Linked DNA regions of Homo sapiens: region 1 is linked to region 2. The links come from fine-mapping of genetic effects on gene expression. A gene starts in region 2. The other region holds a variant in brackets. All regions are shown on one strand. Distances are between the middles of the regions. Region 1 overlaps TRIM58 (tripartite motif containing 58). Region 2 holds the start of OR2W3 (olfactory receptor family 2 subfamily W member 3).

Region 1 (14,359 bases), 27 kb after region 2:
ACAAAGAAGGCAGTAAGGTTAGCCTTCAATGACTTTTAACCTTTTTGTTGGAAAGGTACAGAATATACTTTAAAAATAAGTTAAATATTATCATGATTTCATCATCATCATTATAATGTATTTAAATGGAAAAGCTGAATTCAAACCAGCAATATCAAATATGACCTTAAATATTTACCATAACACAGTGAGGCCAGTATAATTGTTCCATGTATAGGAACCATAACAAGCAGCTAAAAGAGAGAGAGAAGTGTTGTTTGAGGTCTTTTTTCTTTTTTGAGATGGAGTCTCGCACTGGGCTGGAGTACAGTGGTGAGATATTGGCTCACTGCAACCTCCGCCTCCAGGGTTCAAGCAATTCTCCTGTCTCCACCTCCAGAATAGCTGGGATTACAGGCTCCTGCCACCATGCCCAGCTAATTTTTCTATTTTTTTTTTTTTTTTAGTAGAGACAGGGTTTCACCATGTTGGCCAGGCTGGTCTTGAACTCCTGAGCTTGTGATCCACCCGCCTCAGCCTCCCAAAGTGCTGGGATTACAGGCGTGAGCCACTGCACCCAGCCTTAAGGTCTTATAACTAGTAAATATCTGCATTAAAGAACGAGTTGAATGAAAATTCTGATAAATTCCTACTTAAAGTGTATCCAAAGAAAACGGAAAAAGTCTAGGAGTTAGTGATATTAGATTCAGAAGAATGAGCTTTGTAATTCTTAAAAATTAGTCTCAGAATAGAAAGGATTTTAAAAGTAATTGAGTAAAGTCATAGGAAATGTGACCATATAAAGGAATGGCTCTAAATGTATTAATCCAGAAGGAAGCAACAGGTTAAACAGTAAGAGGTAAGAAACAAAAAATAAGGAACAAGAGAGAGAGAGTGACAGGGAGAGAGAGACAGAGCGGGGAAGGAGAGAATGAGAAGGAAAATCAGGAAAACGAGGAGAAACAGAATTAAGGAGGTGATACTGGAATAGTATCAGACCATTCTGAATCAATTTAAGAATTGCCATGTCTAATTCTTATATGGAAGATTTGAAATACAAGGATATTGAAAGGAATAACAAATTATAATGAATGCATAGAAATCCTTATGTAATCCAAGGTCATTAATTTGAAGGAAGACATCAAGAAAATGTGATCTAGAAATAGAGGTTGAGATTGCTCCATTTACAAAATTATTATGCTCTATAATCTTCCCATATGCAAATATTTCATATTCCCTCTTTTGTCCCATGGACATATTTCACAGCAACAACGAATCAAGTGCTGACCTAAATGGGGTATCTGTTAAAACTTAGTATATTGATATCCTTCACCCCACTCCAGGAACGTTCGCTACGCTAGGACTGCATCTTGGGAACAGAATTTTAGAGATGATCATCTCTTACATCAGAAGCAGGATCTAAATGATCCCTGGATGCCCAATTTCCTGACCCTGCTATTGTTGTGGGTGGCAAGATAAGAGGAGTTGCATCACAGATGAAAAAGTAAGGCCGAAGAAGACCAGAGAAGAGTTGGTTGAATGTGTAGATATAAGATCCATCTGTGACATTGTAGAATGAAATTTCACCGGCTTCATAGTCCAAGAAAATCCCAATGCAGCGAGGACTTTCCAGTTGGAGAAGAGGCACTGATGGGGAGGCAAGGACCATGTACTCATTCCCTTTCAGCAGCCACAGGGCCCAGACCCCATTCTCAGGAGATGGCGTGGTTTCCCCCTTTCTTGGCAGTGTGTCTTGACAGACCCCTAAACCCCACTCTGCTCCTTCTCCCACCAGAACCTCCCAGTAATGCCTCCCTGATGAGAAGCTCTGCAAACCCAGGATGCAGGGCCATGTGTCAAATCGCTCAGGGTTGTTGGGGACATCCCTCCATGGTTCTCCATCCTGCACACTGCGCAGGTCGGCGGTCAAGAGCAGACTCGGGTGCGCCGTGGCGGGATCCAGCTTTACATCCACTGCGGAAAGAATGTGGTGGACCAGGTGAAAGGAAAGAAAGGACTGGTAGAAACTTAGGAAACCACTGAAAAGAATAGTCCCACAGTTCCTCACTTTTCTCTCTCTATTAACTCCTAGAGAAAACAAATCAGTATTTCACCTTACAGGTGAAATCTTCTTTATTACTTTATTATTCTTATTCTTTATAACTTTCTGGTATATTCCACTGTTACCTCTGCGTAACCCAGAACTCTTTAACTTTCCCAAAAAAAAACAACTATTGATGACGACAAACCAAGTGAATTATCATTTAGTTTCCTTTCATTTACATCTAAAGCATTTGTGTGTGTGTGTGTGCGTGAGAGAGAGAGAGAGAGACAGAGAGACGGGGTCTTGCTATGTTGCCCAGGCTGGAGTGCAGAGCTATTCATGGGCATAGCCGTGGTACACTACAGCCTCAAACTCCTGGACTCAAGCAATCCTCCCGTGTCTGCCTCCCCAGCAGCTGGGACTACAGGTGCACACCACCATGTCTGGCTTACATCCAAAGCATTTGAGTGCACTTAGGAGGATCTTCTGCATTTAACATAAAATTTATAAACCCCTTAGGAATTTTTTTCTTAAAAATCTATAGAATTTTATTAATATTAAATCCACTACTTCCAAAGTTATATTACTGTGGTAGGCGGAATTCTAAGATGGACCCCATGACCTTCACACCCTGGTGTTAGCCTCATGAGTATGTTACACTATATGACAAGAGAGAGATTATCAAGGTGCGTCTAATCAAATCCCACAAGTCCTGTAAAATCAGAAAGTTTTCTCTGGCTATTGGGTTGGTGGCAGCAGGAAAGGTCAATAAGATGTGGATTTGATATCTCTTTGCTGGCTTTGAAAATGGAAAGGTCACATGAAGAGACAAACGAGTGACCTCTAGAGCTGAGAGTGATCTCCAGAGCTGAGAATAGCCCCCAACCAACAGCCAGCAAGAAAACAGGAATCTCAGTACCGCATTTGCACAGAATTGTATTATGCCAACAACCTGAATAAGGTTGGAGGTAAGGTTCTTCCCCCGACCTACACAGAAGCCTGGCCTGGCCTGGCCAACACCCATATTTGGGCCTTGAGAAAACCTAAGCAGAGGAGCCAGCTGATCCCACTTGGATGTCTGGTCTTCAGAACCATGAGCTACTAAATGGTATGGCTTTAAGCACATAAGCTTGTAGTTATGCGTTATATAACAATAAAAAATACTGATACTCTGAAGTCCCAGTGAGATTGATGAGACATTTGACCCATATACATAATAAATAAATACATCTAGATATGAAACCTCAGTGAAGGGGGGATGTAAAATATTCAGTGCATTTCCTTATTAGCATTGCTTATAAGTAGTAAGTTAATAAATAATATGGTTTGGATGTGTATCGCCTCCCGGTCTCATGTTGAAATGTGATTCCCAATGTTGAAGGTGGGGCCTAGTGGGGGGTGCTGGATCATGGGTGCAGATCCCCCATGAATGACTTAGTGCCATCCCACTGGTGATAAGTGAGTTCTTTATCCGTTCATGCAAGAGCTGGTCGTTTAAGAGGAACCTGGGGCCTCCCCACTTCACTGCTTCCCTCTTGCCATGTGATACGCTGGCTCCTCCTTTGCTTTCCACCATGACTGTAGGTGTCCTGAGGCCTCACCAGAAACAGGTGCCAGCACCATGACTCCTGTACAGCCTACAGAACCATGAGCCAAAATAAAGCATATTTCCTTATATTAATAAATTACCCAGCCTCAGGTATTTCTTTATAGCAATGCAAAATCAGACTAACATGTTAATATAGTTTGATTTTTAATATCAGAACAAATACTGTTTCTACTGCTACTGCTACTGCTACTGCTACTACCACTACCACTATACTTATTTGCCTTTAAACACTTACAGTGAACTACTTTTTTTTTTGAAACGGAGTCTCGCTCTGTTGCCCAGTCTGGAGTGCAGTGGTGCAATCACAGCTCACTGCAGCCTCCACCTCTCAGACTCAAGCCATCCCCTGACCTCAGCCCTCTGAGTAGCTGGGAAGGCACACACCACCATGCCCAGCTAGTTTTCTGTATTTTTTTGTAGAGAAGGGGTTTTGCCATGTTGCCCAGGCTGGTCTCGAACTCCTGGGTTCAAGCAATCCATCCGCCTCAGCCTCCCAAAATGTTGGGATTACAGGCGTGAGCTGCCACGCCCGGTCTAGTGAATTTTTATTGATACCCAACCTGAGTGGTCACGTAACTGCGCATTGCATTATTTTTATTATGTAACCACCCTGAGGGTCACCATTGTCATCCCTACATTACACAAGAGTAGATTCAGAGTCAAAGAGTTTATGTGGTCTTCCCAAACTCTAGAGGTAAATAACAGAGATTGAAAGGTAGGTCTCCATGGATTGTGCATTTAACACAATCTAACAGGTCATGTATTCCCAAGCCATTCCTCTTCCGGCACAGTGGTCTGCTTCATTTCTAACAAAAGAGATCTGTGAAATGGCTTTTGATATGGTCTGTATCCCATTCCTCTCCCTACCCCTTCTCTCCTAAACTCAATTCTTCATCATGATGTGACCATACCCCAACCAAACTGCGCATGTCCATCTTCCCAGGGACCTCCGTGTTGATGAATGGTTACTTGTCAGTTTGTCTTTTTTTTAAGATGGAGTTTTGCTCTTGTTGCCCAGGCTGGAGTTCAATGGCATGATCTTGGCTTACTGCAACCCCCATCTCCCGGGTTCAAGTGATTCTCCTGCCTCAGCCTCCCGAGTAGCTGGGATTACAGGCATGCACCACCACGCCTGGCTAATTTTGTATTTTTAGTAGAGACAAGGTTTCCTCAGGTTGATCAGGCTGGTCT[C/T]GAACTCCTGACCTCAGGTGATCTGCCCGCCTCGGCCTCCCAAAGTGCAGGGATTTACAGGCGTGAGCCACCGCGCCCGGCCCAGAGTTCATCTTCAATGATTTTTCTGTATCTCTCAACACTGAGAATCTACTTGTGCTGGAAAATCTCCCTTTTCCAAAGGTAACACTCATCCATGTTTCCCTTCCCTCACTGCTCACTACTCCTTGATCCTCTTTGCTGTTCTCTTCTCCTCCACCACCACCACTGGAGAAACCTATAGTCCCAAGACTTGGACTTCTTCTCTCTCTCTCACCTCACTCCCTATCTACCCGGGTGCTGGCTGGTTCATTGCTTTGATAAAATTCCATTCATATGCTGACTGATTCCCAATGCATGTGCTTAGCTTTGAACTTTACCCTGAAACTCCCTATTGTACATTCATCTGCCCACTTGATAGCAACATTTGAATATTTAGCACTCATCGCAACATCCACATATCCAAAACCCTGTGCCCTTCTTCTGCTTCAACTGTCGCTTTCCTCATCAATATAAGTGGCAATCACATTTTGCCAGTTCGCAAGATCCAAAACCTTGGAATCATTCATGGCTCTTCCTGTTTATAGCACATCATATATAATCCAACAGCAAATCTTAACAGCTCTGCCTTCAGTATATAACAAAAATCTGTCCATCTTGCGGCACCTTCCGTAATAACATCTATTCCAACACATAATCATCTCTCATCAAATTACTGCAAAGACCCTTAACTGCTTTTCCCATGTCAATCTTCTCCTCTCTGTAATTTACTTACAAGAAAGCATATAGAGTGATCCTCATAAAACATTAGTCCAATCAAACTATTTTTCTAGGTACAACTTTCAACTATGTCCTATTTCGCTCAGGGATAAAGTATCATGCTCAGCATGGCCTGCCTATCTAGCCCTTTCTTGGTCTCTCCGACCCTCCTGTCATTTACTCTGCCACAGAGTCCTCACACTGACATCCTCACAGCTCCTGGAACACACCTGCCATCCTCCACGTCAGGCCTTGGCGCTCATTTCTGCTGCCTGAATGCTTTCTTCCAGATCATATATTTGCTGGGTTATCCCCTGCAGGGCGGGGTCTTTCCTGGTCACCTTATTCAAAACTAGAACTTCTCATTACCCTTTGCATACTCTTTTTGATTTTCTTCAATATTCTGTGTCAGCCACTTACAGCCTGTGTATTTTGGTGAAGTACATATCTGCAACACAAAGCTACGGATTGTAGAGTATTTTGTTGTTGTTGTTGAATGATATATTCCAATGTTTAAAAGAATGGGTGAGATAAAATTAATCACACATTTTGAATGATTTCATTCCATAAAAACAAATATGGATATGAGGTTGCTGAGTCTGAGGGTGCCATGACGATTTTAATCAAGTTGGGCATTTAGCATACATTCATCTACCCAGGAGAACGTGGGTACTATGCTGCAGAGATGGGTTTTCTCATTAAGGGACTTTACACTCTTTCCCTCTAAGTAGTGAAGTCACTATTTAGACATAGTTTTCATTACTTGGGATAAATTAGATTTTAAAATGAAATTGTAAACAATACTGAATCTATACTGTTTTAAAGAATAATACAATCAGACTAAACACACTAATTTTTTGTGACACTGCTTATTCCTACATGAAAATAACTGACAATATTTTTGGCTTTATTGACTCACTAATTCAAGCAACTCATCAAATTCTCAGCCAATAAATTAAACCAAACTTCTTGCTAATTGATAACTTTGCAGTGCTTTCATATTGATTACTTTTAGGAGGTGGGGTGCTTTCAAATGTTTCATTTTGTCCTCCAAGCAATTTATTTTTAGCATTTTATAAGCAAGGAAATGTAAATTTACTGGAAGTAACGTTACTCATATCAGCTAATAAGAGATGACCTACAGTTTTAAGCCCATAGTCTAACCAAATGTAGACTCTATGGGTGGCCGTGACTCTGATACTGCTCATGAATATACTAATCCTCGTTCTTCTGGGCGTGGTGGTGCAGGCTCTATGGGTGGCCGTGACTCTGATACGGCTCATGAATATACTAATCCTCGTTCTTCTGGGCGTGGTGGTGCAGGCTCTATGGGTGGCCGTGACTCTGATACGGCTCATGAATATACTAATCCTCGTTCTTCTGGGCGTGGTGGTGCAGGCTCTATGGGTGGCCATGACTCTGATACTGCTCATGAATATACTAATCCTCGTTCTTCTGGGCGTGGTGGTGCAGGCTCTACGGGTGGCCGTGACTCTGATACTGCTCATGAATATACTAATCCTCGTTCTTCTGGGCGTGGTGGTGCAGGCTCTACGGGTGGCCGTGACTCTGATACTGCTCATGAATATACTAATCCTCGTTCTTCTGGGCGTGGTGGTGCAGGCTCTATGGGTGGCCGTGACTCTGATACTGCTCATGAATATACTAATCCTCGTTCTTCTGGGCGTGGTGGTGCAGGCTCTATGGGTGGCCGTGACTCTGATACTGCTCATGAATATACTAATCCTCGTTCTTCTGGGTGTGGTGGTGCAGGCTCTATGGGTGGCCGTGACTCTGATACTGCTCATGAATATACTAATCCTCGTTCTTCTGGGCGTGGTGGTGCAGGCTCTATGGGTGGCCGTGACTCTGATACTGCTCATGAATATACTAATCCTCGTTCTTCTGGGCATGGTGGTGCAGGCTCTATGGGTGGCCGTGACTCTGATACTGCTCATGAATATACCAATCCTAATTTTTCTGGGCATGGTGCACTCTCCCACGGAAGGAGACCAGGGAATTTTACCCTAAAATATGGCACCCTGGTATGCCCATTATTTTAAATTAAAGGCCCTTGGAGACCATCACACACTGTAAGAAGCTTTATTCTAACACTCATTTATCTGCCTGAAGTCCCTGCATTTTAATTAATTTAGCTCATATTGCAGGAAGACAGACAAGTCTATCAATACACCTGGACAGACTTTAGTCACAAACCACTGTCTACTTTTCAACACTTTGTCCCAAGCCACTGTATGCACTCCAAGCCCAATGAATCCTCCAAAAAATCATTTACTATCTCCCTAAAATCATCCACACCTCCCCATCTCCCTTTCCTCCAATAAAGAAAGGTATATAAGCATCTGTATCCCACTGCGTTATTGGGTCATTACTCTCCTGCGATTCCACTGTGCTATGAATGTTAGACTTTTTCTATGCCTTTGTTCCTATTTGTCTTTGGTCAGTTGATTTTCAGCAAACATTCATAGGGAAAGGGGAAAGTTTTCCCTTGCCCCCTACACTGTCTCCTTGATAGTTTGACTTAGCCATGAAATCTCAGGAAGGCCAGATGCTCTAATTCAGCATGGGTACCTTTAAGAGGAGTGCATGAGTCACCATGCCTATGATACTGTGAAGTACGTATTTGGTCTACAGTGCAGGAGGCACCATACCTATGACACTGGGAAGTATATATTTGGTCTACATTCACCATGCCTATGATACTGTGAAGTGTGTATTTGGTCTATATCCTGTTTACTGACATACAGTTCTTAAAATCCTTGAAATTTCCAGAAATACAAGAGTGTCTTTTGTAAGCTAATAAGATGAATTGTGGTTGGTGATTACCCAGAAAGCCTCCCACTGGGTGTGGTTGCCAGGGGAACCAACCATGTGATTAGAGGCTTGAAACTTTCAGTCCTTCACGCCTCACCCCCCCCCACCTCTGAAGAGGGAGAGGGGCTTAAGGGTGGGTTGGTAAACCAATGGCCTATGATCTAATCAATCACGTCTACATAGTGCTTCCATAAAAACCCAAAATAACTGAGTTCATTGGCCAGGCACAGTGGCTCACGCCTGTCATCTCAGCACTTTAGGAGGCCGAGGCAGGCAGATCATTTGAGGTCAGGAGTTCGAGACCAGCCTGGCTAACATGGTGAGACCCCGTCTCTACTAAAAATATAAAAATTAGCCAGGCATGGTGGCATGTGCCTGTAATCCCAGCTACTCGGGAGGCTGAGGCAGGAGAATCGCTCGAACATGGGAGGTGGAGGTTGCAGTGAGCTGAGATGGCGCCACTGCACTCCAGCCTGGGCGACAGAGTAAGACTTCATCACACACACAAAAAAAAGAACTGAGTCCTGAGGACTTCCAGATCACTGAACACACGGAGGTTCCAAAGGTAGCAGGCCTAGAAAGGGCGTGGAAGCTCCGTACCCCTTCTCACAAACCTCGCCCTAAGAATCTCTTCCATCTGTTCATCTCTAGCCTCTGTAACGCCCTTATAATAAATGAGTAAATATGTGTCCCTAAGTTTTGTCAGCTGTTTCAGGAAATTAAGTGAACTCAAGAAGAGGGTTGTGGGAACCCCAGTTTACAGTCAGTTGGTCAGAATCACAGACCACAACCTGTGCTTGTGACCAGCATCTGAAGTGGGGTCAGTCTTGTGGGACAAAGCCCTCAACCCGGGGAACCTGGTGCTATCTCCAGATAGATAGTGTCAAAATCAAATTGCATGGAAGGACATCTGGCTGGAGTATCTGCTGGAGAACTGATTGGCTGTTTGCGGAGAGAAATCCCCACACATTTTGGTGACCAGAAGTGATGTGTTGTATTGACTCTGGAAGAGAACTTCTTCCCCCATCTCTTCAATAACCCTGCCCTTTTCTATGGCTCCCAGCACCAAGAGGGAGGTAGAGCTCTGTCAGTATGGGTACCAGAGTGAGAAGATGTGGCACAGAAGTCCCCACACCTAGGAACAAACCAACAGCACACTCTCAAAATAAATTTCTGCTGATCTGGGCCACTAAGACTTTAGGTTCTGTTGGTCACTGCAGCTGACTGGCATAGTGACAAACCACAATACGAGGCAAACCCCAGGCAGCCTCATTCCCAGTCTCTAAGATGCAACTACCTTGGAACTTCTTCAAACCCCAGGCAGCCTAATTCCCAGTCTCTAAGATGCAACTACCTTGGAACTTCCTTAAGAGCTCCCTCCTCCCAGGGATGCAGCATGCTGTCTTCAGTTCCATGGGGATGTTCTCTGCTTCCAGCCTTGTGACAGCCTTACTTCTGGGAAGAGCACAGAAACCACAGAAGTCAGCAGGGTTCTCCACCAGCTCCTCTGCCTCTCCCAATCCCTTCACCAATTCAGAAAGCACACATACCTGCTCAGGACTCCTCTCACACCCTGAAAAGGAAAGAAAAACACAGTGTGAGTTGGACTCTGAACTGCTTTTCACAGTCAGACTGAAGACCCCATAAAAATTTCCTTAGAAACTACTGCAAAACATTATTGAGATAAAATTATAGGGGACAATAAATCTCTTTTCTATTTTTTTTTTGAGATGGAGTTTCGTTCTTGTTGCCCAGGCTGCTGGAGTGCAATGGCGCAATCTCGGCTCACTGCGACCTCCACCTCCCTGCCTCAGCCTCCCAAGTAGCTGGGATTACAGGCTCCCGCCACCACGCCTGGCTAATTTTTTTTATTTTTTTGTATTTTCAGTAGAGATGGGGTTTCACCATGTTGGCCAGGCTGGTCTCGAACTCCTGACCTCAGGTGATCCACCCACCTCAGCCTCCCAAAGTGCTGGGATTACAGGCGTGAGTCACCACACTCAGACAAATCTCTTTTCTTTAAAGCTATACAAAGTTTAGGTTAATTCCTGCAACACCTATCAATTTAATTATCTTCTGAATTAATAATTCTGCTACTTGGATATTGTAACAGAGTAACATTCTGCATGTAATTCAGACGGAACAGGATAAAATAGATCCTAAGTACTCATAGAATTTATTTGAGGGGCATGGATAGGTTCCTCAAATAAAGACACAAAATGTTTCCCTAAATATCTTTATAGGAATTATAAATTCCTAATTCTCTGAACCAACGTACCAGAGCTATTCCTATGAGGAGGTTATCTAAATAGATTAATAAAGGAAGCCTTTAATAACTAGTAACATTATTTTCTCAAAGTAGATTATTAAATAAATATATCTGTGATACATTTATTATATTAATAATTGTATTTGGGATACATTTCCCCTCTCCCCTTAAAAACAGTTGCCAGTCAGATAAGTTTTAATGACATAAAAGCAGGGGAATAATTTGCTTTACCCTGTATGGGAATGTCAGGCCTTGGTCTTGGCCTTCAGGGGTAAAATGTAGCTTATTAGTACCAGGGAAGAAAGGGAAAGGAAAGTATAAAAATATACAGCCTGGGCAACACAACCAAGCCTCATCTCTACTAAAAATTTGTTTTAAATTAGCTGGGCGTGGTGGTGCACACCTTTAGTCCCAGCTACTCGGGAGGCTGAGGCACAAGGATCACCTGATCCTAGGAGACTGAGGCTGCAGTGAGCTATGATTGAGCCACTGCACTCCAGCGTGAGTGACAGAGTGAGATCCTGCCCTTTTAGAAAAATAGATAGATAAGATACCTTATTTAAGAATATATCCTCCCATGCCAGGCGGGGTGGCTCATGCCTACAATCCCAGCACTCTGGGAGGCCAAGGCAGGCAGAGCAATAAATACTATTGTTGAAATTGTCAAGCCGGGCACAGGGGCTCACGCCTTTAATCCCAACACTTTGGGAGGCCAAAGTGGGCGGATCACCTAAGGTTAGGAGTTCAAGACCAGCCTGGCCAACATGGCAAAACCCCATCTCTAGTAAAAACGCAAAAAAAAAAATTAGCCAGGTGCGGTGGCACATGCCTGTAATCCCAGCTACTCAGGAGGCTGAGGCAGGAGAATCGCTTGAGCCAAGGAGACAGAGGTTGCAGTGAGCCAAGATCACACCACTGCACCCTGCACTCAGCCTGGGCAACAGAGCGAGACTCTGTCTCAAAAAAACAAAAGAAAAGAAACCGTCAAAGTTCTTGTATTTTGCTCTCTGCTATTTGGAAAATTAATTCCTTTCTGACTCTTAGTTTGCTAACAAGGAAATGAACATAGCAATAATAATAAAATATAAATTTAATATATATAAGATAAAATGAGACAAATTAAATGGCTTTATAAATTCATCTAATGGTCCCCTGCCTCATAATCAGTCCTGTTTAGTCATTGTACTTGCAAATATTATACAGACAGTTAATAGGATTATTTATATTCATGGTACTTTCAGTGCCTAGAACTGAGTCAGAAAAGGTGGAATCCGTGGGTCAGCTTTTAAATGAGAACATGCATCACTTAGTTTAGAATCCCCTGCGTGAGTCACTGGGGAGGAGATAGGAGTCGGTCCAGATAAATTTCTGTTGCCATTGGTTCTACCAAGAAAACATGGATCTATCAACAACTTTGGCTTTCCCTGTTCACTTGGGATATGATGCCTCACAGAGGATTAAAAACAAAGATTTCCTTTCACTCTTACTCGTCTTTCTGCTCTCTAATCCCAAACAGACTGGGAGGAAGCTGCACGGGAGTCCACGTAATCCCTCCTCGCCATGCCTGGAACGGGCATGCAATGTGGGCCAGGAAATCAGTGTTTGCTTTACAATCCAATATAACAATTTCAAGCTGGACAATTTAAATCATTATTCATCCTTCTGGCCAGTGACACTGAAATGTATTATGCAGACTTTCTGTGCTAGCCATCCCTAAAAAACAGCAATGCTATCATGGACAAACTGACTCTGAGGTTTTAGGAATTACTTCTCAGCCAGCAGAGTGTAGCTTGTCCTTTCCCTAGCTGTTTAAGTTTTCAGAAATCATTAATTTTAAGAATTCTTTAGTCCTTAAAACAAACTATATGCTGTTTGTTTGTTTTTTGAGACAGGGTCTTGCTATGTTGCCCAGGAAGGTCTCGATTTCCTTGGCCCAAGCGATCCTCCTGTCTCAGCCTCCCTAATAACTGGGACTACAGGCATGTGCCACCATGCCAGACTCAAACTATATGATTCTCTAGAATCTCATGATTCTGATGCCAGGAATGGCTTCTGAGTAAATTCTAGGGTGTTTAAGCTGCCTTCTGAGTAAATTTGAGGGTGCCCTTTTCCTAAAGAACATAAACGCCAAAGTGTTTGTCTCTGAAAGCCATTGTACTAGTCTCTGTCACCTGAGTCTCACATCTGCCTGCTTTTCTGGCACCCGGCCTCACCTCCAGCAGACCCAGGGCCGGGCGCTGGCACCTCTCCTGCAGCTCATCCGCCAGCTCCTTCAGGGCCTTGCTCTGCTGGACCAGCCGGCTCTTGCTCTCCCGCAGTCTCTGCAGCGTCGCTCGCTCCTCCGCCTCCAGCCGCCTCAGCTGCCGTTGCTCCTCCTGGGCCAGAAAGCCACGATGCTTCTCAAACTCCAATCTGAAGCGCTGCCTCTGCATTTCCACTTTCTCCTGAGGTGACACCGTGGATCACATCGTCAGTGCTTGGCCTCCAGCAGCCATGTACAGGACAGTGCTGGAGAAGGTAATGTCCAGACTTCCCCGGGCTCCGTAACTCTGTGGACTCACTGGTTGCATCCTAACAACATGCACAGACTGGAGTCCATTCATATAAGAAGTAGCCCAGGAGAGTTTTCAAATTAAGTTTAAAAAATACTGTTGGACTGGAGTTCCCATTTTGCCACAGGCTTGGGGGCAAGGCACTTTTATACTGAAGTTTCAGTACCATATACAAAATGTGAGGTTTTGGGGAGGTCGAGGCAAGAGGAGTGCTTGAGGTCAGGAGTTCAAGACCAGCCTGGGTAACAAAGCAAAATGCGACCCCATCTCTAAAAAAATTAAAATGAACCGACCAGGCATGGTGGTAAGCCCTGTAGTCCCAGCTACCCACAAGGCTGAGGTGGGAGGATCACTTGTCTAAGAGCTCGAGGCTGCAGTAAGCTGTGATTGCACCACTGCACTTCAGCCTGGGTAACAGAGCAAGACTCCATCTCTTAAAAAATGTGGGGAAAAAGAGGAGTATGTGGATTACAGCTAAATATCTATTAAACTACAAGAACAGTGATTAGCATAGAGCAGTCACACAGCAGAAGTTACTATTTACTACTAGATCAGTCGCTAGAACCACTAGAAACAACTGAATGATGAAGAAATGTTTGTTTGAATAAGAAAAGGCTGAGAGATGAGAAAATATGAATGCTGTTTCATAATATGGTAATAGTGAACACAACCATAAGCCTAACATTCTCTACAAAGCCAAGAAAGAACTAAGTGATGCTCAGGCCACTGATTTCAGAGTTCACGTCAGAGAATTAATCCCAATTTCTACCTGAATCTCACGTCTTCAGTTTCTGAATAGACCTAAGGAACATACTTCGTCCCAGGCTTAGTTTCTAGATTTTCTTCTCTCAAGATAAGTATATCGAAAACTAACTTTAAGCTGAGTACGAGAGGTAAATTATTCCCTCAAAGTATCTATACCTCCCATTCTCTGTCCTGTTTTATCGATTTATTTTATTTTTTGTATATATTCATGGGGTACAAATGCAGTTTTGTTACATTGTTATACGGCCTTGTAGGTGAAGTCATTTGCCTGGTTTTTTTTTTAATCTTTTTTTTGAGACAGAGTCTCGCTCTGTCACCCAGGCTAGAGTGCAGTGGCG
Region 2 (15,480 bases):
GAACACCAGGAAGGAACTGGTACTTGGAGTCTGGACATCTGAAACTTGGTAAGACTAGTCTTGGGAACTTGCCCACTCCATTTGAGTGGAAGCGTGGCCTGATCACCCACGGCATGCCCGTACTGGCACTTTGGTTTTGATTTTGGTTTTGACTTGGTTTAAATTGCTTGACAGGACTGGTCTTGGGAACTTGCCCACTCCATTTGAGTGGAAGCGTGACCTGATCACCCACGACATGCCTGTACCGGCACTTTGGTTTTTGTTTCTGACTTGAATTGGATTGCTTGATACTTTGGTTTTGGTATTGACCTGGCTTGGATTTCTGGATACTCTGATTTTGGTTTTGATTTTGGTTTGGTGTAAACTACAAAAGTGTGTGTGTGCCCTTTTTACCCGTTCTTTGTTTTGTGGTGTGCATGTGGTGTGAGCGTGGTATTTTGTCTCGAGGAAACATGAGTGAGGCATAAAGTAAGCCCACCCCACTAGGAACTATGTTGAAAAATTTCAAAAAAAGGATTTAAGGGAGACTATGGAGTACTATGACACCAGGAAAACTTAAAACTTTATGTAAGATAGACTAGCCAGCATTAGAGGTAGGTTGGCCATTAGAAGGAAGCCTGTACAGGTCCCCTGTTTCAAAGGTATGGCACAAGGTAACCTGTAAGCCAAGGCATCCAGACCAGTTCCCATACATAGACACTTGATTACAGCTGGTTTTAGACCCCACGCCCCCAACACACAGTGGTTGAGAGAACAGCAGCATAAGCGACTGGCAGAGGCAAGGAAAGACCAGCAGAGAGAGAACGGAAAGAGACAGAGAGGAAAAGAGGAAAAGAGAGAGAGGAAGAGACAGACAAAGAAGGAGCCAAGGAGAGAGGGAGAAAGAGAAAGAAAGAGAGAGACAGAGAGAGAGAGAGAAAGAGACAGAGGCAAAAGGAAAGTGAAAGAGAGAGAGACAAAGTCAAAGAGAGAAAGAAAGAAAGACGATTTAACATTGACTGCTGAAAATTCCCTTAACCCAGCAGGTTTCCTAATGGGATCTAAATCTTAATTACCATACGAAGGTCTGACCAAACCTAGGAGGAACTCCCTTCAGGACAGGACGATCTATGGTTCCTTCTGGGTAATTGAAAAAAAAAAAAAAAAAGCCATCTATACCAATTCTAATTTGGACAAGACAAGGTCTTATTAATAGCAAAGGATAATTAAAATCCCAGACTTACAAGGTTTTCAACAAAAGTAAAGTTTGCTGAAAGTTAATAGTGTAACATGTATGATAGTAACTTCTATTCTTGTGGCCGTAGACAGTCTAGTTCACAGACATAAAAAAAGGTTTGCTTTGGAAAAGAATGGTTATCATCTTCGGGGAAAAAAAGGGTGGGGGCGGAATTCATATAAAAAGAGTGTTATATGGTAAATTCTTGTCCTGAAATATATTAACTGGTTGTTTAAAGAAAGAAATGTTTGTAATAAGTCAGAAAGTTAAGGCATGTCGAAAAATTGCCTGTAAAAGTCATGAAAGAAAAAAAAAAGGTTATTTTTAAAAGTGTGTTAAAAAAAGAACTTATGCAAAAAACGTTATATAATTTAAAAGTAACTAGGCCTCCTGAATGTAAAACTATTGAAAAAAAAAACAGTTTATGTCCAAGGTGTATAAGTAAAATATACCTTTAGTAAAAGGATTATGAGGCATAAGAATGTACATTTTTACCTACATTAAAAAGTTTAAAAAATTATTGTTTTGAAGGTTTAAGCAAGTTTTAAAACATTAGTTATAAAGAAAATTATGTGTGTAAACATATTAGCTAAAGTTAAAGAAGTATCATCCAGTTTTTCTGTGAACTGGACATTAAAGTAAAAGCATAACAAGTTTTTCTTAAAGCACCAACCTGCTCTTTAGCAAAAATTATAGAAGGTTAAAAAGAGTCTATAAAATCTTACCTTATGGTCAAACATTAAAAATTAAATAAATGTCTACTAGGTTTTATTAAAATTAGGTTTAACATTAATAACACACTAATATAAAGATAAAATTTAGCTTATCTAGTATAAAAATCATATGAGAAGCATTGTTAAACGTAAAATGGTATTTGGTTTTCTTTGGTTTAAAAACTAATAAAAATAGGTGCTAAAGGAAATTTCTCAGTAAAAAGGCACTAAGTATTATAAAGTCCACTGCCAAGGTCCCCACATTTAAAACAAAAGGTCAATCTCTTAAAAACTATATACTTGGTTTATCTTCCACTTTCCTTTCTCGCAAAAAAAACTAAAAGTCTTTTAGCACAGGTACTACCCCCAGAATTTCCAGTAAACCAGCACCAGCCTGAAGATCACGTTCTCATCGAAAGGTGGAAAGAAGAAAAACTCGAGTCAGCCTAGGAAGGACCCTACCTTGTGCTGCTAACCACCAAGACAGCTGCTCATACAGCAAAAAAGGATGGACTCATCACACCCAGTCAAGAAAGTGCCACCCCCGCCACAGAGTTGTGGGCCATAGTCCCAGAGGAAAACCCTACCAAACTAAAGCTAAGAAAAATCTAACGCTTTTCATCTATTACTCTTTCTTCTTTCCGCGCTCTATTGCTGACCCTCTAGTTATTAACATAACCAAGTCAATTTTGCCTCAAACTATTGCATTTAATGCTTGCCCTTTTATACCCTGTGGGGACGTGCCAAGTCAAAGACAGCTCTCTACTTCAGAAAAGCACTTCTGTCCCCCTGACTCTCCTCAGACTGGGCGTTAGTAAACTAGGACCATTTAATCCCGGGAGATTTCGATAAACACCCCAGTGCCAACCAGGAGTCTTGCCCCCCGATGTAGAGCTTCCCTGCCATAGTTGGTCCAATGTTCTGTGGACCACTAAAGAGCAAGGATGGACTGCCCCAACCAGTTTTTGTAATTTCCTAAAACCATACATTCATTTTACTAGAGGATTATAGAAGTTAAAGACTTAAAACAAACTTTAGCAATTAAGACAGGATACCACGATGCAAATGCCTAGTTAAAATGGATCAAATATTCCATCTGCACGTTAAACAAAAGCAATTGTTATGCTCGTGCACATGGCAGACCAGAGGCCCAGATTGTCCCCTTTCCACTAAGGTGGTCCTCCAGTCGACCAGGCGTGGGCTGCATGGTAGCTCTTTTCCAGGATTCTACAGTCTGGAGTAACAAGACGTGCCAAGCTCTCTCTGCTATATCCCAAAGTCCAGCACCCTGAGGGTCAGCCCCCGAGGGCCATCCAGCTTCCATCTTCCAACACTAAGTTCATTTCGTGTCTCTCATGACAGGGAGGAAACTTAGCATTCCTTGGATACCTGAAAGGATGCAGTGAGCTTAAGAATTTTCGAGAGCTTATCAATCAGTCAGCCCTTGTTCATCCCTGAGCGGATGTGTGGTGGTATTGTGGTGGACCTTTACTGGGCACTCTGCTGAATAACTGGAGTGGCACTTGTGCTTTAGTCCAATTGGCTATCCCTTTCACCCTGGCATTTCATCAACCAGAAGGAAAAAAAATAAGACACTGTAAAGCGAGAGAAGCCCCTTACGGGTCTTTCGACTCTCGTGTCTATTTAAATGCAACTGGAGTCCCACGAAGAATAGCAGATCAATTTAAAGCTTGAAATCAAACAGCTGCAGGATTTAAGTCAATATTTTGGTGGGTGACAGTTAAGAAAAATGTAGTTTAGATAAACTACATCTATTACAACCAACAGCAACAAGCTTTTCATGAGTTAAAAGAAAAACTCACGTCAGCCCCAGCCCTGAGGCCACCTGACCTGACAAAACTCTACGCTCTATGTGTCAGAAAGAGAAAAAATGGCAGTTGAAGTTTTAACCCAGACTGTGGGGCCCTGGCCAAGGCCAGTGGCCTATCTCTCAAAACAACTAGACAGGGCTTCCAAAGCCTGGCCCCCAGGTCTAAGGGCCCTAGCAGCAAGGGCCCTGTTAGCACAAGAAGCAGATAAACTAACCCTTAGGCAAAACCTGGATATAAAGGCCCCCCATGCTGTGGTAACTTTAATAAATACAGAAGGACATCATTGGTTAACAAAGGCTAGATTAACCAAGTACCAAAGCTCGCTATGTGAAAATCCCCACATAACCATTGAAGTTTGCAACACCCTAAACCCCACCACCTTGCTCCCGGTATCAGAGAGCCCAGCTGAACATAACTGTATAGAGGTGTTGGACTCAGTTTATTCTAGCAGGCCTAACCTCTGAGACCATCCTTAAACATCAGTAGACTGTGAGCTGTATGTGGATGGGAGTAGCTTCGCCAACCCCTGCAAAGTGACTCTGAAGAAGACGACCAGCCCTGCTCCAGTCACACCTGGAAGCTGACTGGTCCACGCATGGCTGAAGCATGAGGAAACTCATCGCGGGACTCATTTTCCTTAAAATTTGGACTTGTACAGTAAGGACTTCAACTGACCTTCCTCAGACTGGGGCTGTTCCCAGTGCATACATCAAGTCGCTGAGGTAGGATAAAAGGTTGCTACAGTCTTATTATTTTATGGTTATTATAAGTGTACTGGAACTCTAAAAAGAACTTGTTTGTATAATGTTATTCTATACAAGGTATGTAGCCCAGGAAATGACCAATCTGATATGTGTTATGACCCATCTGAGCCTCCCATGACCACAGTTTTTAAAATAAGATTAAGGACTGAGGACTGGTGGGGGCTCATAAACGATACGAGTAAAGTGTTAGCCAAAACAGAAGAAAAAGGGGTGCCCAAACAAGTCACCTTAAAATTTGATGCCTGTGCTGTCATTAATAGTAATAAGTTAGGAATAAGGTGTGGTTCTCTTAATTAGAAAAGAGGCTATACGGCAGAAAATAAGTACATCTGTCATAAATTAGGGCTGTGTGGAAATAAATGTAAACACTGGTCTTGTGTCCTTTAGGCCACTTGGATAAAAAAAAAAAATGAGAAGGATCCAGTCCACCTTCAGAAAGGAAAAAATGGCCCTTCCTGTACTAAGGGACAATGTAACCCCTTAGAGCTAGTAATAACCAAGCCCCTTGAACCTCGCTGGGAAAAAGAGGAGCGTGTGACCTTAGGAATTGACGGGGCCGGACTGGATCCTTGAGTAAATATCTTGGTTCGAGGAGAAGTTTACAAACGCTCTCCTGAGCCAGCGTTTCAAACTTTCTATGATGAACTAAATGTGCCAGTACCAGAAATTCCAGGAAAAACATGAAATTTGTTTTTGCAATTAGCCAAGCATGTAGCCCAGTCTCTCAATGTCACTTCACATTATGTATGTGGAGGAACTGTAATGGGAGATCAATGGCCATGGGAAGCCCGAGAATTAGTACCTACAGACCCAGTTCCTGATGAATTCCCGGCTCAAAAGAATCACCCTGATAATTTCTAGGTCCTAAACGCCTCAATTATTGGACAATATTGCATAGCTAGGGAAGGAAAAGAATTTACTCACCCTGTAGGATGACTTAGTTGTCGGAGACAGAAACTGTATAATGGTACCACAAAAACAGTCACTTGGTGGAGTTCAAATCACACAGAGAGAAATCCATTTCATAAATTCCCAAAGTTGCAGATCGTGTGGACCCACCTGGAGTCCCACCAGGACTGGACGGCCCCCACTGGATTATACTGGATATGTAGGCATAGAGCTTATGCCAAATTACCTGACCAGTAGGCAGGTAGTTGTGTTATTGGCACTATTAAACCATCTTTCTTCCTACCGCCCATAAAAACAGGCAAACTCCTGGGCTTCCCTGTCTATGCTTCCCATGAAAAGAGAAGCATAGCTATAAGAAATTGAAAAAATGATAAATGGCCCCCTAAGAGAATCGTGCAATATTATGGGCCTGCTACTTAGGTACAAGACGGCTCATGAGGATACCGGACCCACATGTACATGATCAACCAAATCATATGGTTACAAGCTGTCTTAAAAATAATCACTAATAAAACCGGCAGAGCCTTGACCATTCTGACCCAGCAAGAAACTCAGATGAGAAATGCTATCTATCAAAACAGATTGGCTCTTGACTACTTGCTAGCAGCTGAAGGAGAAGTCTGTAGGAAATTTAACCTTATTAATTGCTGCCTACACATAGATAATCAAGGGCAAGTATTTGAAGACATAGTTAGAGATATGACAAAACTGGCACACGTGCCCATGCAAGTGTGACGGATTTGATCCTGGGGCCATGTTTAGAAAATGGTTCCCAGAGCTAGGAGGATTTAAAACTCTTATAATAAGAGTTATAATAGTAATAGGAACCTACTTACTGCTCCTTTGTTTGCTACCTGTACTTCTTCAAATGATAAAAAGCTTCATCACTACCTTAGTTCACCAAAAGCTTCAGCACAAGTGTACTATATGAATCACTATTGATCTGTCTTGCCAGAAGACATGGGTAGTAAAAATGAAAGTGAGAACTCCCACTATTGAGTGAGACTCTCAAAGGGGGGAATAAGGGAGTAGACCACCCCTCATATTGTCTTATGCCCAATTTCTGCCTCCAAAGAAAAAAAAAGTAAAAACTAAAAGGCAAATATCAAATCCACAAGCAGACAGCCCAGCACCACACCCTGGGCCTGGTAGTTAAAGATTGACCCCTGACATAATCGGTTATGTTATCTATAGATTACAGACATTGTATAGAAAAGCACTGTGAAAATCCCTGTCCTGTTTTGTTCCGATCTAATTACCAGCCCCCAGTCACGTACCCCCTACTTGCTCAATCGATCACGACCCTCTCACGCGCACCCCCTTAGAGTTGTGAGCCCTTAAAAGGGACGGGAATTGCTCACTTGGGGAGCTCGGCTCTTGAGACAGGAGTCTTGCCGATGCCCCTGGTCGAATAAACCCCTTCCTTCTCTAACTCGGTGTCTGAGGAGTTTTGTCTGCGGCTCTTCCTACTACACATCCACATCAGTACTTCTTACAAACAGCATCCTTGAATAGTCAGAGGGGGTGCTCTGGAAGCACAGGAATCCCCCTCTCTGGGGCTCTGGTTTGTTTACACTTACACAATGCCCTGGGGCTGGTGACTTTAGATGTGAGGTGTGGAGGTGAGGAGGATACAAAAGAGCGCAGAAATACACTTGTGGAGGAGGAGGGAGCCGAGCACAGGAGCAACGGCAGAGGAATGAGGACCACCCCTCAGCTGGCCTTTCACACCACTCCCTCTCACCTTGTGTTCGCCCTTGGTCTATGAACACTCTCCCAACTTTTTCCAGAATGTGTCCACCCTCCAAATGCCCGGAACAAGAGCAGGGGGTGATATACTTCCTGGGTTCTTAAAATGTAGTCCGAGTCCCCAAAGTAGGGACATCACCTGGGAGGTTTGCAGAGTCGCAGAAACTCAGACCCCTCTTATCACCAGCTGAATTGGAATTGCATTGGAACAAGACCTCAGATAACTGGAGGGCACGTTAGTGGGACACATTGAGGACTGCAATGTGTAAGGAACAGTAGCCAGTCATGCCCCTTAGCCCCAAAGGGTCTTTGACATTGTGTGCCAAATGCTTAAGGATTTTTGCTCTTTGAAATTTCATGATGCAATAGAAACCATATGAATCGGGAGTCTGACAGAACTTGGAAAAAACCCTGGTTCAGTTCCCCTCGAGCAAAAGATTTAACCTTCAGATCTCAAGGACCAGGGAGATAAAATGGGAATAATGATAATCATGCTGACCTCATACAAATACTGAGGTTGCATGACTTAGGAGCGTCTGGTACACAGAAGGGACTAAACCAATGTCAGGTTCTTCTTACTAATAATGAAAAAAACATGCCTGAGAAAGAATGATGCTTTAAGATTTAAACAACCCATGCATCATAACTTACAGGTTCACTTCTTGGTTTATGCAGAATCTTACACCAGATAAAGGGTAAAACAAACTCTACGATTTCATGAAAAGGTTTGGGTAGGAATTGGGAATATAGAAAATATAAAACTGTGCTGCATTCCATGATTTGATGGCCCTAAACAGAGAGGCACTTGGACCACGTGGAGAACAGTGATGCATTTGGGGTCATTCTGACTGAAACATGTCAGGTGTGTTAGACTTTAAAGCAAACAACAACAAACAAAGCAAAGCTCTGATTGAGAAGAGTTATTTCCTCTTAGCACTCTGGTATAAGTAGGTGGAAACTCATCTTTACAACTGTTTGTCTCACTTCATTCTTTGCAGCTGCTTTACAGATCATGATGGGTTTTGGGGATGATTTGTGTTATATAGTTCACACATAAATCACATAATGTTGGCCAGTCGCAGTGACTCACACTTGTAATCCCAGAACTTTTAGGAGGCCATGGCAGGGGGATCACATGAGGCCAGGAGTTTGGGACCAGCCTGGTCAACACAGCAAGACCCCGTCTCCATAGAAGACAGAAAAGCCACAAGCCACAATTCCCACTGCCAGTGATGCACACCTGTAGTCCCAGTTACTTGGAAGGCTGAGGTGGGGGAGGATCGCTTAAGCCCAATAGTCGAAGGAGCTATGGTGGCACCACTGCACTCTACCCTAGGTGACAGAGTGAGACCCCGTCTCAATTTTAAGAGCAACAACAAAAACACATAATGTCAGAACTGAAACAGCCTCACAAAAGTCCAGAAAAAGGCAAGTTGGGAGTCGTGGGCTAATATCAGCTGGAATTCAGCCGTTCCAGATGCTGCCAGTGGCCCTGGATGGAAGTGAAGTCAGGTGGAGATGCCTTTACTCCTTTCCTAGCTCTCTCTTCCCCAGAAGCAACCTTCCCAGTGCCCCCTTCACCTCTCTGTTTCTGAGGGTGTAGATGAGAGGATTGAGGAGGGGGGTGACAATGTTGTAGAAGAGCATGAGGAACATGCCCTGGTCCTGGGAAGAACTGGCTCCTGGCTGCATGTACATGTAGATGATGTTTCCATAGAAAAGGGAGACCACAGTGAGATGGGAGCCGCAGGTGCCGAAGGCCTTCTGCCTTCCTGATGCTGACCGAATTTGTAACACAGCCCTCACAATGTAGCTGTAAGAGAGCAGGATAAACACCAAGGGGGACAGCACAACACCCACCGCCAGGACAAAGACGGTGCCTTCGATGGCCACAGTGCTGACGCAGGCCATCCGGATCAGGGCGGGCATCTCACGCAGGAAGTGGTCCACCTCGTGGTGCCCACAGCGGGGTAAGCGCAGGGTCACAGGAGACATGGCCAAGGAGTTGGCCACCCCACAGCCCCAGGTCACTGACACCAAGCCCCGGCAGAGCCTGGGGTTCATGATCACCATGTAGTGCAGGGGCTTGCAGATAGCCACACACCGGTCATAGGCCATGACAGCCAGAAGCAGGCACTCCACACCACCCAGACCCAGGAACAGGAAGAGCTGGATGGCACAGCCCATGTAGCTGATGGTCTTGTCACATCCATTAAGGTTGTAGAGCAGCTGGGGGATGGAGCTGGTGGTGAAACTGAGGTCCAGGAAGGAAAGGTGGGCGAGGAAGAAGTACATGGGGGTGTGGAGGTGGGGGTCCAGCCGGGACACCAGGATGATGGTGGTGTTGCCTACGAGGGTCAGGAGGTACGCGATCAGGATGACCACAAAGAGGATCCTCTCCAGATGGGGTCGGTCAGAGAATCCCAGTAGGATGAAATGGGTTTGGGTGCTGCCATTGGTTCCATCCATCTCTACTGCTGCTGAACAGAAATATCAATCCTAATAATAATAATAACAGCTGATATTAAGGGAGAACTTACTAGAAGCTAAGCATTCTTCTATGCTTTTTATATTTATTTTATTCATTCAACCCCAACAGTTATATGGAGTTGCACTATTATTATTAGCTCCCAACTTATAGAAAAGGAAACTGAAACACATGTGTGTTGAGCAAACTGTGATATGTAGGAAGACACAGAGCTGATTCTGAACCCCGGCAATGTAGCTGAGAGTGTGCAATCTAAACCACCAGTAGCACTGCCTCCAAATCCAGTGAAGTGAAGGCAAATCCTGCTGTGGCCAAACCACGAATTTTTCTAGAGACTCCAGTCCCTAGGCTCCTGCCAAAAACCTCAAGGACTCAAAATGGAGCCTCAAAATAATCCATCAATAGTATTTAGGAAATACTCTTTACACACAGAGTACTTTATCTATTACTGGTCTCAAAGACACACCTCATTCATTGGGTTACCATTACTGAGGTAATTTTTAAATTACCTCAGAATTTAATTTAATTTAATTTTAAAATTACCTCAGTAGATAAATAATGTAAGAGACAGGCAAAATACACATAAAATCTCTTTTTTTCTCTCTGTCTTTTAAATGGGCCTGGTATTGAACAAATAGAGTGTATGGGTTTTTCTTCCAAAGTACTATATACTGCTTGAGAGGATAAAAGAGATTGAAAAAACTTTGTAACAGATATTACAACTGTAATGCAAAATTCACGCATATGTACAGAAACCTCTATCACGTTCCAACTCTAATACCACATCACATTCAAAGCAAAGCATATTTGATAAGACAAACCACAAGTCTTACAGATGGATATAGGGAGACTTGGTCCATCCTGGTGTTTGGGTGATGGATGCATTAAAAGCCAAGACTTCGCCACTGTGCAATACATGCAGCTAAAAAGCAGTACCCCCAAATTAATATAAATAGATATAAGCATGTATGTGCAGGTAAAAAGCAGTACTCCCAAATTAATATAAATAGATATAAGTATGTATGTGCAGGTAAAAAGCAGTACTCCCAAATTAATATAAATAGATATAAGTATGTATGTGCAGGTAAAAAGCAGTACTCCCAAATTAATATAAATAGATATAAGCATGTATGTGCAGGTAAAAAGCAGTACTCGCAAATTAATATAAATCCATACGTGGAGGTAACAAAACAGTACTCCCAAACTAAGACAAATAAAAATAAATACATGCGAAGATGGCCGAATAGGAACAGCTCCGGTCTACAGCTCCCAGCGTGAGCGACGCAGAAGACAGGTGATTTCTGCATTTCCATCTGAGGTACCGGGTTCATCTCACTAGGGAGTGCCAGACAGTGGGCGCAGGCCAGTGGGTGCGCGCACCGTGCACAAGCCGAAGCAGGGCGAGGCATTGCCTCACCTGGGAAGCGCAAGGGGTCAGGGAGTTCCCTTTCCCAGTCAAAGAAAGGGGTGACGGACGCACCTGGAAAATCAGGTCACTCCCACCCGAATATTGCGCTTTTCAGACCGGCTTAAAAAACGGCGCACCACGAGACTATATCCCACACCTGGCTCGGAGGGTCCTACGCCCATGCAATCTCGCTGATTGCTAGCACAGCAGTCTGAGATCAAACTGCAAGGCAGCAGCGAGGCTGGGGGAGGGGCGCCCGCCATTGCCCAGGCTTGCTTAGGTAAACAAAGCAGCCTGGAAGCTCGAACTGGGTGGAGCCCACCACAGCTCAAGGAGGCCTGCCTGCCTCTGTAGGCTCCACCTCTGGGGGCAGGGCACAGACAAACAAAAAGACAGCAGTAACCTCTGCAGACTTAAATGTCCCTGTCTGACAGCTTTGAAGAGAGCAGTGGTTCTCCCAGCATGCAGCTGGAGATCTGAGAACGGGCAGACTGCCTCCTCAAGTGGGTCCCTGACCCCTGACCCCCGAGCAGCCTAACTGGGAGGCACCCCCCAGCAGGGGCACACTGACACCTCACACGGCAGGGTATTCCAACAGACCTGCAGCTGAGGGTCCTGTCTGTTAGAAGGAAAACTAACAAACAGAAAGGACATCCACACCAAAAACCCATCTGTACATCACCATCATCAAAGACCAAAAGTAGATAAAACCACAAAGATGGGGAAAAAACAGAACAGAAAAACTGGAAACTCTAAAACGCAGAGCGCCTCTCCTCCTCCAAAGGAACGCAGTTCCTCACCAGCAACAGAACAAAGCTGGATGGAGATTGATTTTGACGAGCTGAGAGAAGAAGGCTTCAGACGATCAAATTACTCTGAGCTACGGGAGGACATTCAAACCAAAGGCAAAGAAGTTGAAAACTTTGAAAAAAATTTAGAAGAATGTATAACTAGAATAACCAATACAGAGAAGTGCTTAAAGGAGCTGAAGGAGCTGAAAACCAAGGCTCGAGAACTACATGAAGAATGCAGAAGCCTCAGGTGCCGATGCGATCAACTGGAAGAAAGGGTATCAGCAATGGAAGATGAAATAAATGAAATGAAGCGAGAAGGGAAGTTTAGAGAAAAAAGAATAAAAAGAAATGAGCAAAGCCTCCAAGAAATATGGGACTATGTGAAAAGACCAAATCTACGTCTGATTGGTGTACCTGAAAGTGATGCGGAGAATGGAATCAAGTTGGAAAACAGTCTGCAGGATATTATCCAGGAGAACTTCCCCAATATAGCAAGGCAGGCCAACGTTCAGATTCAGGAAATACAGAGAACGCCACAAAGATACTCCTTGAGAAGAGCAACTCCAAGACACATAATTGTCAGATTCACCAAAGTTGAAATGAAGGAAAAAATGTTAAGGGCAGCCAGAGAGAAAGGTCGGGTTACCCTCAAAGGGAAGCCCATCAGACTAACAGCGGATCTCTTGGCAGAAACCCTACAAGCCAGAAGAGAGTGGGGGCCAATATTCAACATTCTTAAAGAAAAGAATTTTCAACCCAGAATTTCATATCCAGCCAAACTAAGCTTCATAAGTGAAGGAGAAATAAAATACTTTACAGACAAGCAAACGCTGAGAGATTTTGTCACCACCAGGCCTGCCCCAAAAGAGCTCCTGAAGGAAGTGCTAAACATGGAAAGGAACAACCGGTACCAGCCGCTGCAAAATCATGCCAAAATGTAAAGACCATTGAGACTAGGAAGAAACTGCATCAACTAACGAGCAAAATCACCAGCTAACATCATAATGACAGGATCAAATTCACACATTACAATATTAACCTTAAATGTAAATGGACTAAATTCTCCAATTAAAAGACACAGACTGGCAAGTTGGATAAAAAGTCAAGACCCATCAGTGTGCTGTATTCAGGAAACCCATCTCACGTGCAGAGACACACATAGGCTCAAAATAAAAGGATGGAGGAAGATCTACCAAGCAAATGGAAAACAAAAAAAGGCAGGGGTTGCAATCCTAGTCTCTGATAAAACAGACTTTAAACCAACAAAGATCAAAAGAGACAAAGAAGGCCATTACATAATGGTAAAGGATCAATTCAACAAGAGGAGCTAACTATCCTAAATATATATGCACCCAATACAGGAGCACCCAGATTCATAAAGCAAGTCCTGAGTGACCTACAAAGAGACTTAGACTCCCACACATTAATAATGGGAGACTTTAACACCCTACTGTCAACATTAGACAGATCAACGAGACAGAAAGTCAACAAGGATACCCAGGAATTGAACACAGCTCTGCACCAAGCGGACCTAATAGACATCTACAGAACTCTCCACCCCAAATCAACAGAATATACATTTTTTTCAGCACCACACCACACCTATTCCAAAATTGACCACATAGTTGGAAGTAAAGCTCTCCTCAGCAAATGTAAAAGAACAGAAATTGTAACAAACTATCTCTCAGACCACAGTGCAATCAAACTAGAACTCAGGATTAAGAATCTCACTCAAAGCCGCTCAACTACATGGAAACTGAACAACCTGCTCCTGAATGACTACTGGGTACATAACAAAAAGAAGGCAGAAATAAAGATGTTCTTTGAAACCAACAAGAACAATGACACAACATACCAGAATCTCTGGGACGCATTCAAAGCAGTGTGTAGAGGGAAATTTATAGCACTAAATGCCCACAAGAGAAAGCAGGAAAGATCCAAAATTGACACCCTAACATCACAATTAAAAGAACTAGAAAAGCAACAGCAAACACATTCAAAAGCTAGCAGAAGGCAAGAAATAACTAAAATCAGAGCAGAACTGAAGGAAATACAGACACAAAAAACCCTTCAAAAAATCAATGAATCCAGGAGCTGGTTTTTTGAAAGGATCAACAAAATTGATAGACCGCTAGCAAGACTAATAAAGAAAAAAAGAGAGAAGAATCAAATAGACACAATAAAAAATGATAAATGGGATATCACCACCGATCCCACAGAAATACAAACTACCATCAGAGAATACTACAAACACCTCTACGCAAATAAACTAGAAAATCTAGAAGAAATGGATAAATTCCTCGACACATACACTCTCCCAAGACTAAACCAGGAAGAAGTTGAATCTCTGAATAGACCAATAACAGGAGCTGAAATTGTGGCAATAATCAATAGTTTACCAACCAAAAAGAGTCCAGGACCAGATGGATTCACAGCTGAATTCTACCAGAGGTACAAGGAGGAACTGGTACCATTCCTTCTGAAACTAATCCAATCAATAGAAAAAGAGGGAATCCTCCCTAACTCATTGTATGAGGCCAGCATCATTCTGATACCAAAGCCAGGCAGAGACACAACCAAAAAAGAGAATTTTAGACCAATATCCTTGATGAACATTGATGCAAAAATCCTCAATAAAATACTGGCAAACTGAATCCAGCAGCACATTAAAAAGCTTATCCACCATGATCAAGTGGGCTTCATCCCTGGGATGCAAGGCTGGTTCAATATACGCAAATCAATAAATGTAATCGAGCATATAAACAGAGCCAAAGACAAAAACCACATGATTATCTCAATAGATGCAGAAAAGGCCTTTGACAAAATTCAACAACCCTTCATGCTAAAAACTCTCAATAAATTAGGTATTGATGGGACGTATCTCAAAATAATAAGAGCTATCTATGACAAAGCCACAGCCAATATCATACTGAATGGGCAAAAACTGGAAGCATTCCCTTTGAAAACTGGCACAAGACAGGGATGCCCTCTATCACCACTCCTATTCAACATAGTGTTGGAAGTTCTGGCCAGGGCAATTAGGCAGGAGAAGGAAATAAAGGGTATTCAATTAGGAAAAGAGGAAGTCAAATTGTCCCTGTTTGCAGACGACATGATTGTTTATCTAGAAAACCCCATTGTCTCAGCCCAAAATCTCCTTAAGCTGATAAGCAACTTCAGCAAAGTCTCAGGATACAAAATCAATGTACAAAAATCACAAGCATTCCTATACACCAACAACAGACAAACAGAGAGCCAAATCATGAGTGAACTCCCATTCACAATTGCTTCAAAGAGAATAAAATACCTAGGAATCCAACTTACAAGGGATGTGAAGGACCTCTTCAAGGAGAACTACAAACCACTACTCAAGGAAATAAAAGAGGATACAAACAAATGGAAGAACATTCCATGCTCATGGGTAGGAAGAATCAATATCGTGAAAATGGCCATACTGCCCAAGGTAATTTACAGATTCAATGCCATCCCCATCAAGCTACCAATGACTTTCTTCACAGAATTGGAAAAAACTACTTTAAAGTTCATATGGAACCAAAAAAGAGCCTGCATCGCCAAGTCAATCCTAAGCCAAAAGAACAAAGCTGGA

What was found. PIP is the estimated chance that this variant, and not a neighbour inherited with it, causes the effect.
Region 1: its variant is fine-mapped to the expression of OR2W3 in thyroid (GTEx, PIP 0.97).

Annotation. Positions count from the first base shown.
Region 1 is chr1:247,863,494-247,877,852 of GRCh38, reverse strand. It overlaps TRIM58 (tripartite motif containing 58), which reads right to left. Exons shown (of 6, transcript NM_015431.4): 3 at 12,918-13,148; 4 at 9,986-10,008; 5 at 9,790-9,890; 6 at 1-1,953. The coding sequence ends at 1,364. Among named protein-coding and RNA genes, the nearest start is that of TRIM58, 13 kb to the right of the region's middle. The variant C/T (reference allele first, on the strand shown) is at 4,824.
Region 2 is chr1:247,889,759-247,905,238 of GRCh38, reverse strand. It overlaps OR2W3 (olfactory receptor family 2 subfamily W member 3), which reads right to left and starts at 9,652. Exons shown (of 1, transcript NM_001001957.2): 1 at 8,708-9,652. The coding sequence starts at 9,652. The coding sequence ends at 8,708.